2 separate regions of the Homo sapiens genome follow, and region 2 is linked to region 1. Evidence: fine-mapped expression QTL. Tissue or cell type: whole blood. Region 1 holds a variant in brackets; the other region holds the start of a gene. All regions are shown on one strand. Distances are between the middles of the regions. Region 1 overlaps PCNX3 (pecanex 3). Region 2 holds the start of RELA-DT (RELA divergent transcript).

Region 1 (5,360 bases):
AAGCCTGAGGCAAGTCCCTCAACCTCCTTCAGCCTGCTTCCTCTCTGTAGAGGGTGGAAGTAACCCCTTCCTTGAGAGGCTGCTGCAAAGGCCCACGGGGCTGATACAGAGCGGTGGCCACAGGCCCTCAGGAAATTCTCTTCCCACCCAGGCAGAAGTTGGCTCTGCTCCCATTGGACAGCCTGGGGTCTGGGCCACAGCCACCAACTCACCTTGCTGCAAAGCAGGGACATGAGGAAGTAGTCAAGCAGAAAGCCCTGGGAGAGGCGCGGGTAGTCAAAGTGGAAGAGCAGGACGGTGAAGGCCAACGTCAGGTACTGCTGTGGGGGGCAGCAGAAGGCTGAGCGCAGCAGCTTCAGCCCAGCCACGGTCATCAGCAGCGCCCGGCAGCTGTGGGCAAGGGGCAGGCATCGGGTGCTTGGTAGGGGACCGGGGCAGTGGGTATAGGTGTCCCATCCCTCGCCTACTCTGGCCGGAGAGCAACCCCTGGCCTCTGCTCTGCTGGGCTGGTCCCTGCTCTTTTGGGCCCGTGACTCTTAGTCTCTGCTCTTCCAAAGGGAGTGGTGGGAACACATTTGCCTTTGAAGAAGCAACCACTTCCTGGGATGGCGTGTCAGGAGCTGGGGTCCTGCTTTAGCTTGCTAAACAACCTTAGACATGATTCATTCCCTCTCTAGGCCTCAGTTTCCCCACGGATCAAAAGGGAAAGCGGATGATGGGATCGTTGAGGGTGGGGTGGTCCTCACTAGAAGCAGTACTTGTCCGGGTGGCTGACGACTGTGTGGGCGTCCACCGTGAGGGCGTTGAGCACCACGGCGGGGTAGATGAGGTACTTCTCTACGCACTGCAGGCCAGCATACAGCTTCTCAAACCACATCACCTGGGCGGCACCTGTGTGGAGAGGCCAGGACTCTGCACCTGGCTTCCACATGCCTGCCTTCCCTGAGGAAGTCCTTCCCTAGGAGGGCAGGCTGTGCGGTCCTGACTCCTCGGAGACCCTGGGGGGAGGGGCTGATCTGTGGCAGCTCAAATGGGAGCAGCGAGCCCCAGCAGGGCAAGGGCTCCACATGGCACTTAGCACATCGAGGCTTGCTTTATGGCAGGTGCTCTGCTCTGCTGTCTGTTAAAACAAGGCCAATGATGAAATCGCAAACACCTACGTACAGCAGGCTGGCTAGGGCCTGAGTGCACAGTGAGCCCGTGAGCTGGGCCCTTCTAAAGGGCAGACCCCTCGGTTCAGGCTGGTTGTAGCCACAGAGGGATGCTAGTCTGGGAAGCAAAATCTTCTGTCGTTTAAGAAAAACTCAAGAAACATGGATCTTCATATCTCAAATCGAGATGCTAAAATAGAGGCTCCAGGATTTTTTAAAAACCATTATGCAGCCCAGTGAAGATGTGCTCCAGGCAGCTCTGGTCCACTGGTGATCAGTGTTTAATTCTGGACAAGAGATCCCTTCAGGGCCCTGGGGTTCTAATTCTTCCGTCTTCTCACAGACAGGAAGGAGGGCAGGACCAGGGCAACACAGGCAAGGGAAGGGCACAGCAGGGCACGAGGAGAAGAGTCGGTGGAGAGCGCAGCCGGGCAACACGGACACAGAGGGCAGGGAGGGAGCAGAAAGGGTAGTGTGGGCAGCGAGTGCCCCCTGCTGGCACTCCTGAGCCGAGAGGACCACAGCTCCCACCAGCCAGGCTGCAGCCCGAGCCACTGCCCAGGCCTGGCCATCAGGGGTGGGCACTCACCGCGCACTTCATACTGGCTGTACTCCAGCGGCTTCAGCACGGGCTGTGACAGGCAGAACCAGGGCAGCTGTTTGCGGAGTTGTGGCAGCAGGTAATGTGTGAAGAAGCCCACGGCCCCAGCCAGTGCGTACAACACGAAACCCAGCACCGACTGCAGGAGGGAGAGGCCAGAGACTCAGCTGATGGGAGCAGGCCAAGGGACCACAGAGGGCCACCTGGCACAGGCCGGGGAGGGGCTGCCCACGGCACTCAGATTGAGCAGGCTCCCGCCAAGACAGCGAGAGGCAGCAGCGGCCCATGCCACACAAACCTTCAGGGCAATAAAGACGGTGCTGGCGCTGATGGCGAAGGTGAGCACGGCGATCACCACACACATCACCAGGTCGGAGTGCAAGACCTCACGCTGCAGGGCCAGGAGAGACATTCAGCTGCCCGGCCAGGAGAGACACTCAGCTGCCCAGCAGCCCAAGCTGGACATGCCCCTCCCAGGAACCCCAGGACCTGTCACCACCTCCCCACAGACCCCCACCCCCCGCCCCCTCACCACCGACTGGCGCATCTTGTCCGGCAAGGGGTCCGGGGGCTCGGCCCGGGCTGTCTCCAAGCTGCGCTCCTCCAGCTCAGGGAACAGCTTGCTCCGGATCAGAGACCTGGGGGTGAGGAAGAGTCAGGAGGAGGCCGCCCCTCCTTCCCCCCGGCCCCAGTCACGGGCACATGCACAGACCACAAACCCCTACTGGGCAGACACAAACACACGACCCGGAGCACACCCACCAGAGCACGGTGGGGTCGCTGCTCTGCCGGCTCAGGTGGTAGGACAGTGCCACCAGGAGGCCACAGAAGACTGAGAAGAGGACAGGGACGTGCTGCTCTGGCCACGGAGTCTGCGGAGAGAATCCATGCTGGTCAGGGGAGGTGAGGTAAGCATGGGGCCCGGGCTGCCCCCGTGTGAGAAGCCACTGCTGAGCCCAGTTCACAGCCCCGCCCCAACCACCCTTACGCACTGCAGCATGCCCCCACCTCGCAAGCCACCCCTACCTTGATGGCCCCAAGGCAGAAACCGTAGAGCAGGGCAGCAGCCAGCAGGCTGCGGGAGAGGCTGAAGACTGCCGTGAGCGGGCTGGTGGCAGCTGTGTGGAAGGGAGAAGTACAGCCCAGCTCTCACTTGCAGGTACCCCACCTCAACCCTAGCCGCGCTTCCCCTCAACTCCCAGAGGCTGGCCTCCCTGGAAAGGCACCCCCAGCCCATTGTTCTCTGCTGCCCCAAG[C/A]CCCAAGCGGCCTTTAGAGCTTCCAAGATTCTCAGATATAAACCACTTGCCTGGGGAGGGAAGGAGAGGGGAGAAGGCAGAAACCTTGAGTCTGCAGTACAGACGCAGGAGAAGGTTCCGCAAGGGTGGAGCCAAGGACCCAATCCGAGGGCCCTCCTGGGCCTCCACACGGGCCCCATCCCTGAGCCACCTGTGGGCATCATACCTGTGCCCCCGAAGCCGTGCATATCTATTTGCTCCAGCAGGTACATGAGGCAGGTGTTGACCTGGGGCAGGAGGCCCAGGAGGAAGACGAAGGGGAAGCACAGGGTGAACACTGGCAGGGAGGGGACACGAAGGCCTGGTCAGCCTGCTGGCTTTCCGCGGCCCACCCTCGGGGACTCACTCTCCTGGGCCACCTCATCCCTGCCCCAGCCTCACCAGTGGCCACGTCTCGGGCACAGAAGAAGAAGGAGGCAGAGAAGAGCGTGAGGCCGTAGAGGGAGACAGGTGGGAAGGGCTGAGCTGAGCCCAGGGCGTCCAGCAGCCAGATGAGCAGACAGCAGATGCAGAAGTAGACAGGACGGCTGTACGCGATCACCCAGTTGTGGCCCTGAGGGGTCAGCCCATGAGGAGCTGGGTCTCCCCGACTGGCCACACCTCTGACACATGCACACACTCAAGGGCCCCAGGCCTGGCCCTGGGTCCAAGCTGGAGAGCCTGGCCAGGTGGGGGTGATGGGGGTGGTGAGGGAGCCCCAGCCCTCCATACCCTACCCTCCTCCCCACCTGGTCTCAGCCCCTCCCGGGGCCTCCTGGCCAGAGGCGCTGCTCCATGGGTACTCACGTGCATGGGGGACGCCGCATCAGGCTGCACGCTCTGGAAGAGACAGGGCTACGTTGGCAACTAGAGCCGATGCCCACGGGATGGTCAGAGGCCCCAGACCTGTTCAGCTCCACCACTAGGCAGTTATGAGTGACCAGGTCAGGCCCCCGAACTGTCCTGAGCCTCAGTTTTCTTGCTTGTAAAAGAGCTGGCCAGCTCTAGGGAACCTTAGACAAATTATCTACCTTTCAGCTTATACTCCTTAAAACTGGAGTTGTGGGAAGGGCAATCTTGGGAAAAGTCGGGTGGGGAAGGAAACACAGAGAGCCCGGCCTGACCTTCAGCAAGGAGTACTGGCAGGAGGCGATGACCAGGCAGAACTGGAAGACCCAGATGTCAGTGAAGAAGCCCTTGAGCAGCAGCAGGTAGCCCAGGAAGGCCACAAGGCTGCTCAGGCCCACGCCGAAGATGTTCTCCAGCACTCCCCGCGTCCTGCAGGGACAGCCTAGTCAGGGCGTGCCCGTCTTGCCTCACCTTCCAGTGGGGCAGTGGGGAAGATGGATCTTGCCCTAAAGGCCCAGCTCTGGGACTGTGCCCATGCCAGACCCTTGTCCTCTGAAGATGTGAACACCTATAACTTTGCGACGACGCGGCCCGGCAGCACCTGCTCCAGCGACCATTGTATTGCTCTCTCCTTCCCAATCTTTGCCTGCTCTGGACATTGAGGGCTGAGAGCTCAGGGTGCCATTACTCCCGGGATTCATCCATCCCCAGCTGAGACTGAGTTAACTGCACGTGGCTACATCGTGCATGCTGCCTTGGGCGTGCCACGCTATGCACACAGGACCAGCACCCAGTCCCTGTGCCTAGAGAAACCCAGATGGACGGGAAGCCACATGGGCTCTAGGCCCAAGTTCTCTACACTGGGTAGAAGTCATCTGACTTCTCTATTGGATTTTCTGGGACTCTGTGTCCCCTCTGAGAAATGGGAAAAGTGAGATAACTGGTCTGTGAGCTTTTCTAGGTTACAGCACTCGATTTTCAAATCAACAGAAGCTAATAAAAAAAAAGTGAATAGGATGGCCGGGCGCGGTAGCTCACGCCTGTAATCCCAGCACTTTGGGAGGCCGAGGCGGGCAGATCACAAGGTCAGGAGATCAAGACCATCTTGGCTAACACTGTGAAACCCCATCTCTACTAAAAAAAAAAAAATACAAAAATTAGCCAGGTGTGGTGGCGGGCACCTGTAGTCCCAGCTACTCAGGAGGCTGAGGCAGGAGAATGGCGTGAACCTGGGAGGCGGAGCTTGCAGTGAGCCGAGATCATGCCACTGCACTCCAGCCTGGACGACAGAGAGAGACTCCGTCTCAAAAAAAGTTTTTTTCAGCAGGACTTTGGAATAAACAGATTTAATACAGCACCACCCACTTGGCCACCCCTTTACACCACAAATGAACCATAGAAACCACCACTGCAGACTCCAGCCAACGACAGGCCCTCAGCTTCCCCCGAGTCAGGCTCTCTGCTGCCATGACTGCCTCCACAGGT
Region 2 (5,360 bases), 38 kb before region 1:
AGTACAAAATTAGTCAGATGCAGTGGTTCATGCCTGTAATCCCAACATTTTCAGAGGCTGAGGCAGGTGGATCACCTAAGGTCAGGAGTTTGAGACCAGCCTGGCCAACATGGTGAAACCCCGTCTCTACTAAAAATACAAAAAGTTAGCCAGGCATGGTGGCAGGCACCTGTAATCCCAGCTACTCAGGTGGCTGAGGCAGGAGAATCACTTGAACCTGGGAGGCAGAGGTTGCTGTGAGCCGAGATTGTGCCATTGCACACAACAAGAGCGAAACTCTGTCTCAAAAGAAAAAAAAAATACAAAATTAGCCGGGCATGGTGATGCATACCTGTAATCCTAGCTACTCAGGAGGCTAAGGCAGGAGAATCACTTGAACCTGGGAGGCAGAGGTTGCAGTGAGCCGAGATGGTGCTATTGCACTCCAGCCTGGGCCACAAGAGAGGAACTCCATCTCAAAAAAATAAAAATAAAAATGCCTATCTTCAGGATGAATAAACAAACTGTGGTATATTTACACAACAAAATAGTATACAGCAGTGAAAAAGTGAATTAACTGTGAAACATGAATCATAGTAACAGGTTGAGTGAAAAAAGCAAGTAACAAAGGACAACAAATCATATGATGCCCTCTTCATAAAAGTTCAAAACTGGCTGGGTGCGGTGGCTCACACCTGTAATCTCAGCACTTTGGGAGGCAGAGGCTGGCGAATCACCTGAGGTCAGGAGTTCGAGACCAGCCTGGCCAACATGGTGAAACCCCGTCTCTACTAAAAAAATACAAAAATTAGCTGGGCGTGGTGGTTGGCCCCTTTAATCCCAGCTACTCAGGAGGCTGAGGCAGGAGAATCGCTTGAACCTAGGAGGCAGAGGTTGCAGTAAGCAGAATGCCACTGCATTCCAGCCTGCGCGACAGAGTGAGACTTTGTCTCAAAAAAAAAAAAAAAAAAGTTCAAAACTAAGGAAAACCAAAAGATATATTGTGTAGGCATGCAGATATAACTTTTTTTTTCTTTAAAATACAGAATTCTGGGCCAGGTGTGGTGGCTCATGCCTGTAATCCCACTTTGGGAGGCTGAGGTGGGAGGATCGCTTGAGCCCAGGAGTTTGAGACCAGCCTGGGCAACACAGTGAGACCCATCTCTATTTACAATAAATTAATTAATTAATTAATTTAAAAAATACAGAATTCTGGCCCAGCGTGGTGGCTCACGCCTGTAATCCCAGCACTTTGTGAGGCCAAGCGGGGAGGAAAGTTGAGCTCAGGAGTTCAAGACTAGCCTGGACAACAAGGTTAAACCACTTCTTTACAAAAAATACAAAAACTTAGCCGGGCATGGTGGTGTGCTCCCGTAGTCCCAGCTATGCAAGAGGCTGAAGTGGGAGGATTGCTTGAGCCCAGGAGGTAGAGGCTGCAGTGAGCAGAGATTGTGCCACTGCACTCCAGCCTGGGCGACAGAGACAGACCGTGTCTCAAAAAATAAATAAATAAATAAATACAATACAATACAATACAATACAATACAATACAATACAATACAATACAGAATTCTGGATGGTGGTGGCCCCTTGAGTTTTGCAATGGGTACATGGGTGTTTATCGTATTAATTTAAAAGTTATAAATATACATGAATTTTAAGAAGAGGATCCATGCAAGGTTCAATGATAATTGTATATCATTAACCAAAGATTTTAATTAATCCATTCTGTCACCTGAAGTCGGCCTCCCCCGCCCCCTGCCAAAAGTAAACACTTTTCTAATCAGGGCCAGCCACTGGAGAAACTGAAATGAGTGGGCGGGGTGCTAACTCTATTTTCACTTTTCTCTTCCTGTTTCTTCAGAGCCTGGGAAACAAGTCAGAATTTCCAATCTTTTCCAATTCCCACATGATTTCCTAATTTAAGACGAATTCAGAGAAAATAAAAAAGTCTTTCTCCATCTGGAGAAGACTCCGCCCCCTGCAGTGGAGCATCCTCCTTTGGGGATGAGGCCTGGGGTGGGGGTGCGTCAGCCCCAGCCTCCACACGGACGCGCCTTGGGCTTGGTCTTGGGGGAGCTACCTGCACTGTGGGGTCACATGACAGAATTAGTGGTCAGCCCTAGCTGGAGGTCCAGGGCAAACACAGGCGGGGGCAGGGGGGTGGGGGGTCGTGAGCCTGCTGATTCAAGTGTCCCTGTGGGTCCCGCACCTTCTGAGACACAAGCGCCAGGCTTCAGAGACGAGGCTCCGGGATTTACCCCTGGGGGCCTCCTGCTCCCACAGCCGATGAGAGCCGGCAGTTTGGCTGTATCGTAAGCTGGCGCTTTAGCTGGAGAGGGACGAGCCCTCGGCCAGCTCGCCAGCGGGAGGGCCTCAGTCGTCCCATCCGGGCTGTAGGCTCCGCAAAGCTCTTGATGCACTGTCAGGCTGGGAGGTCCGGCCGCTCCCATTCCCCCACAGCCGCATCTAGATTGGGGTGGGTAGGACATTTTAACGTGCTTCTGAGACAGCCACCACCGAAAGGCACCTTTAGCGGTTAGGAAACCCGCGCGGAGTTCAACCACCCGGCCTCTGCGGAGCAGAAGGCCCGGTCGGGCTTTTCCCTGCGCGGGGCGGGCGGCCGCAGCCCAGTAGCCCTGGCTTTGCTCCAGACCCGGCCCAGAGTGACATCACCAAACTCCGCCGATCGGCGGGAGGGGGCCCTGAAATCCCCTAAAAACAAAGTGAGTAATCGGCGGACCCACCCTCCAGGCGGGGCCGGGACCCGGGAGCTAGCCGAGCCACCGGGCACGCCAGCCTCTTCGTCCTCGGCGAGGCGCGCACTTGGCCCCGACCCCCGGCAGCGGCTGTGCGTGCAGCCTCTTCGTCCTCCGCGCGGCGTGCACTTGCTCCCGGCCCCTGCGCCGGGCGGCGGCGGGGCAGCGCGCAGGCGCGGCCGGATTCCGGGCAGTGACGCGACGGCGGGCCGCGCGGCGCATTTCCGCCTCTGGCGAATGGCTCGTCTGTAGTGCACGCCGCGGGCCCAGCTGCGACCCCGGCCCCGCCCCCGGGACCCCGGCCATGGACGGTGAGGTCGCCCTCTGACCCCGCGGGGTGGCATCGCCGGGGCCGCCGCGGCTGTGGCGGGAGCCCCCGCGCCGCTTTCCGCCCCTTCCTGCGCCGACGGGCGCTGCGCAGGGAGCGGTCGGCCTGCCGGATGGTGGCGCGGGGCGGGGCAGGCGGGGAGGGGTCTGACTCAGTTTCCCCTCTGGGTGGAGGGGGTGGCCCTTGACTCAGCATCCTCCCTGGGTGGGGGAGCAGAGGGAACCTTGACTCAGTTTCCCTCCACACCGTCCATGGGGGCAGCTCTGGCTTCGTTTCCCTATTAGGGGAGAACGCATCTGATTCAGTTTCCTCTCTGGAGGGAGGTGGGGCGTGCCCTCCCTCAATTTTCCTTAAGAAAGTACAACAGGCCCTGATTCAGCTTCCCTCTGGAGAAGAAGGATTCCTTACCCCGTTTTCCCTCAAGAAGCAGGTGTTTCTGGTTCCTTTCCTCCACCCCTTAGTTTCACCGCAGGTTCTAGGGAGCAGGTCCTGACTCAGTTCCCCTGGGAGGGAGCCTGGCTTCTCCTCTCCGTGGAGAGCAGATTCCTCCTTGTGAGAATGGGCATTGGGTGTGTGCTGACCCTGATCTCCCTCCCCTTTCAGAACTGTTCCCCCTCATCTTCCCGGCAGGTAAGTGGCCCCCGCGGCGGTCGGGGAGGTGCTCCCTGGGGTAGGGCAGTGGGGGCAGCCGCCTAATGGGGCTGCGGTGTCCCCTGGCAGAGCCAGCCCAGGCCTCTGGCCCCTATGTGGAGATCATTGAGCAGCCCAAGCAGCGGGGCATGCGCTTCCGCTACAAGTGCGAGGGGCGCTCCGCGGGCAGCATCCCAGGCGAGAGGAGCACAGATACCACCAAGACCCACCCCACCATCAAGGTCAGCACTGCGCCAGGGTGTGCGGGGAAGGGACTGTGGAACCCCAGCCCTCTGTGTTTGGGAGTCAGGTTTGGATGTCTGGGCCTCTGTACTTTGGACAGATCAATGGCTACACAGGACCAGGGACAGTGCGCATCTCCCTGGTCACCAAGGACCCTCCTCACCGGCCTCACCCCCACGAGCTTGTAGGAAAGGACTGCCGGGATGGCTTCTATGAGGCTGAGCTCTGCCCGGACCGCTGCATCCACAGGTGAGGTCCCTGCAGGCTAGGAGGCCCAGCATGAGGGGACAGGAGGCGGGCTATGAAGTAGCCGCTACAGTGTTACTCCTTTCTGGACCCAGGGCAGAATTCCTCACTCCTTGCCCTGACTCAGCTCTGCAAGTAAACTGCCTTTGTCTTGAAATTATCTATTTGTACGTTTACTCTAGCAGATGAGTTCCAGGGGATACGGATGGGTCCCTAATCACTTCTGAATTCCTGACCCCTGTAGCTGGAAGGACAAGTCCCTCAGAGTCACGTCTCTTGTTTGAGGAAGAAAACCATTGAACCAGCACTCTCCCCTGGAGTTGACATTGCAGTTGACAGAGACAGGCTGTAAAAAAATATACAGGCCGGGCATAGTGGCTCATGCTTATAATCCTAGCACTTCGGGAGGCCAAGGCAGGAAGATCTCTTGAGCCTAGGAATTCAAGACTAGCCAAGGCAACATAGTGAGACCCCATGTCTACAAAAAATAAGAAATTAGCTGGGTATGGTGGCATGCGCCTATAGTCCCAGGGAGGCTGAGGTGGGAGGATCGCCTGAGCCCAGGAGGTCACTGCTGCGGCAAGCTATGATTGCACCACTGCACTTGGGTGGCAGGGCGATACCTTGTCTTTTTTTTTTTTTTTTTTTTTTTAAGAAAGAGTCTTGCTCTGTCCCCAGACTGGAGTGCAGTGGCGCGATCTCAGCTCACTGCAACCTCCACCTTCCGGGTTCATGCCATTCTCCTGCCTCAGCTTCCCGAATAGCTGGGACTACAGGTGCCTGCCACCACGCCTGGCTAATTTTTTGTATTTTTTAGTAGAGACAGGGTTTCACCGTGTTAGCCAGGATGGTCTCAATCTCCTGACCTTGTGATCTGCCTGTCTTGGCCTCCCAAAGTGCTGGGATTACAGGCTTGAGCCACCGCACCCGGCCCGACACTGTGTCTCTTAAAAATAAATAAATACACAGATAAATAAACAAGGTGCTGTCAGAGTAACAGTTTCAGTCCTGAAAATAAAACGAGGTCATAGGATAGAAGGATAACCTGGGGTGGGGGAGTTAGGGGAGCTGGTGTGTGATGACTTTAGATTGGGAGGTCAGGGAAGGCCTCCCTCAGCTAAGACTTGAATGGTGAGAAGGAGGAGAGAAGTAGGAAAAGAACATTCCAAGCCGAC

The links. PIP is the estimated chance that this variant, and not a neighbour inherited with it, causes the effect. A credible set is the group of variants that fine-mapping cannot tell apart.
Region 2: it holds the start of RELA-DT, and the variant in region 1 is the best candidate, but not a certain one, in a credible set for the expression of RELA-DT in whole blood (INTERVAL, PIP 0.89).

Annotation. Positions count from the first base shown.
Region 1 is chr11:65,622,435-65,627,794 of GRCh38, reverse strand. It overlaps PCNX3 (pecanex 3), which reads right to left. Exons shown (of 35, transcript NM_032223.4): 12 at 4,151-4,304; 13 at 3,834-3,866; 14 at 3,429-3,600; 15 at 3,214-3,324; 16 at 2,779-2,870; 17 at 2,515-2,624; 18 at 2,285-2,390; 19 at 2,051-2,143; 20 at 1,741-1,891; 21 at 747-891; 22 at 213-390. Among named protein-coding and RNA genes, the nearest start is that of PCNX3, 9.3 kb to the right of the region's middle. The variant C/A (reference allele first, on the strand shown) is at 3,009.
Region 2 is chr11:65,660,515-65,665,874 of GRCh38, reverse strand. RELA-DT (RELA divergent transcript) reads right to left here and starts at 2,869. Exons shown (of 4, transcript NR_183625.1): 1 at 2,727-2,869; 2 at 332-429. It overlaps RELA (RELA proto-oncogene, NF-kB subunit), which reads left to right and starts at 2,959. Exons shown (of 11, transcript NM_021975.4): 1 at 2,959-3,049; 2 at 3,670-3,696; 3 at 3,787-3,938; 4 at 4,040-4,188. The coding sequence starts at 3,043. RefSeq lists an enhancer at 2,453-2,652 and silencers at 2,743-3,152, 3,213-3,272.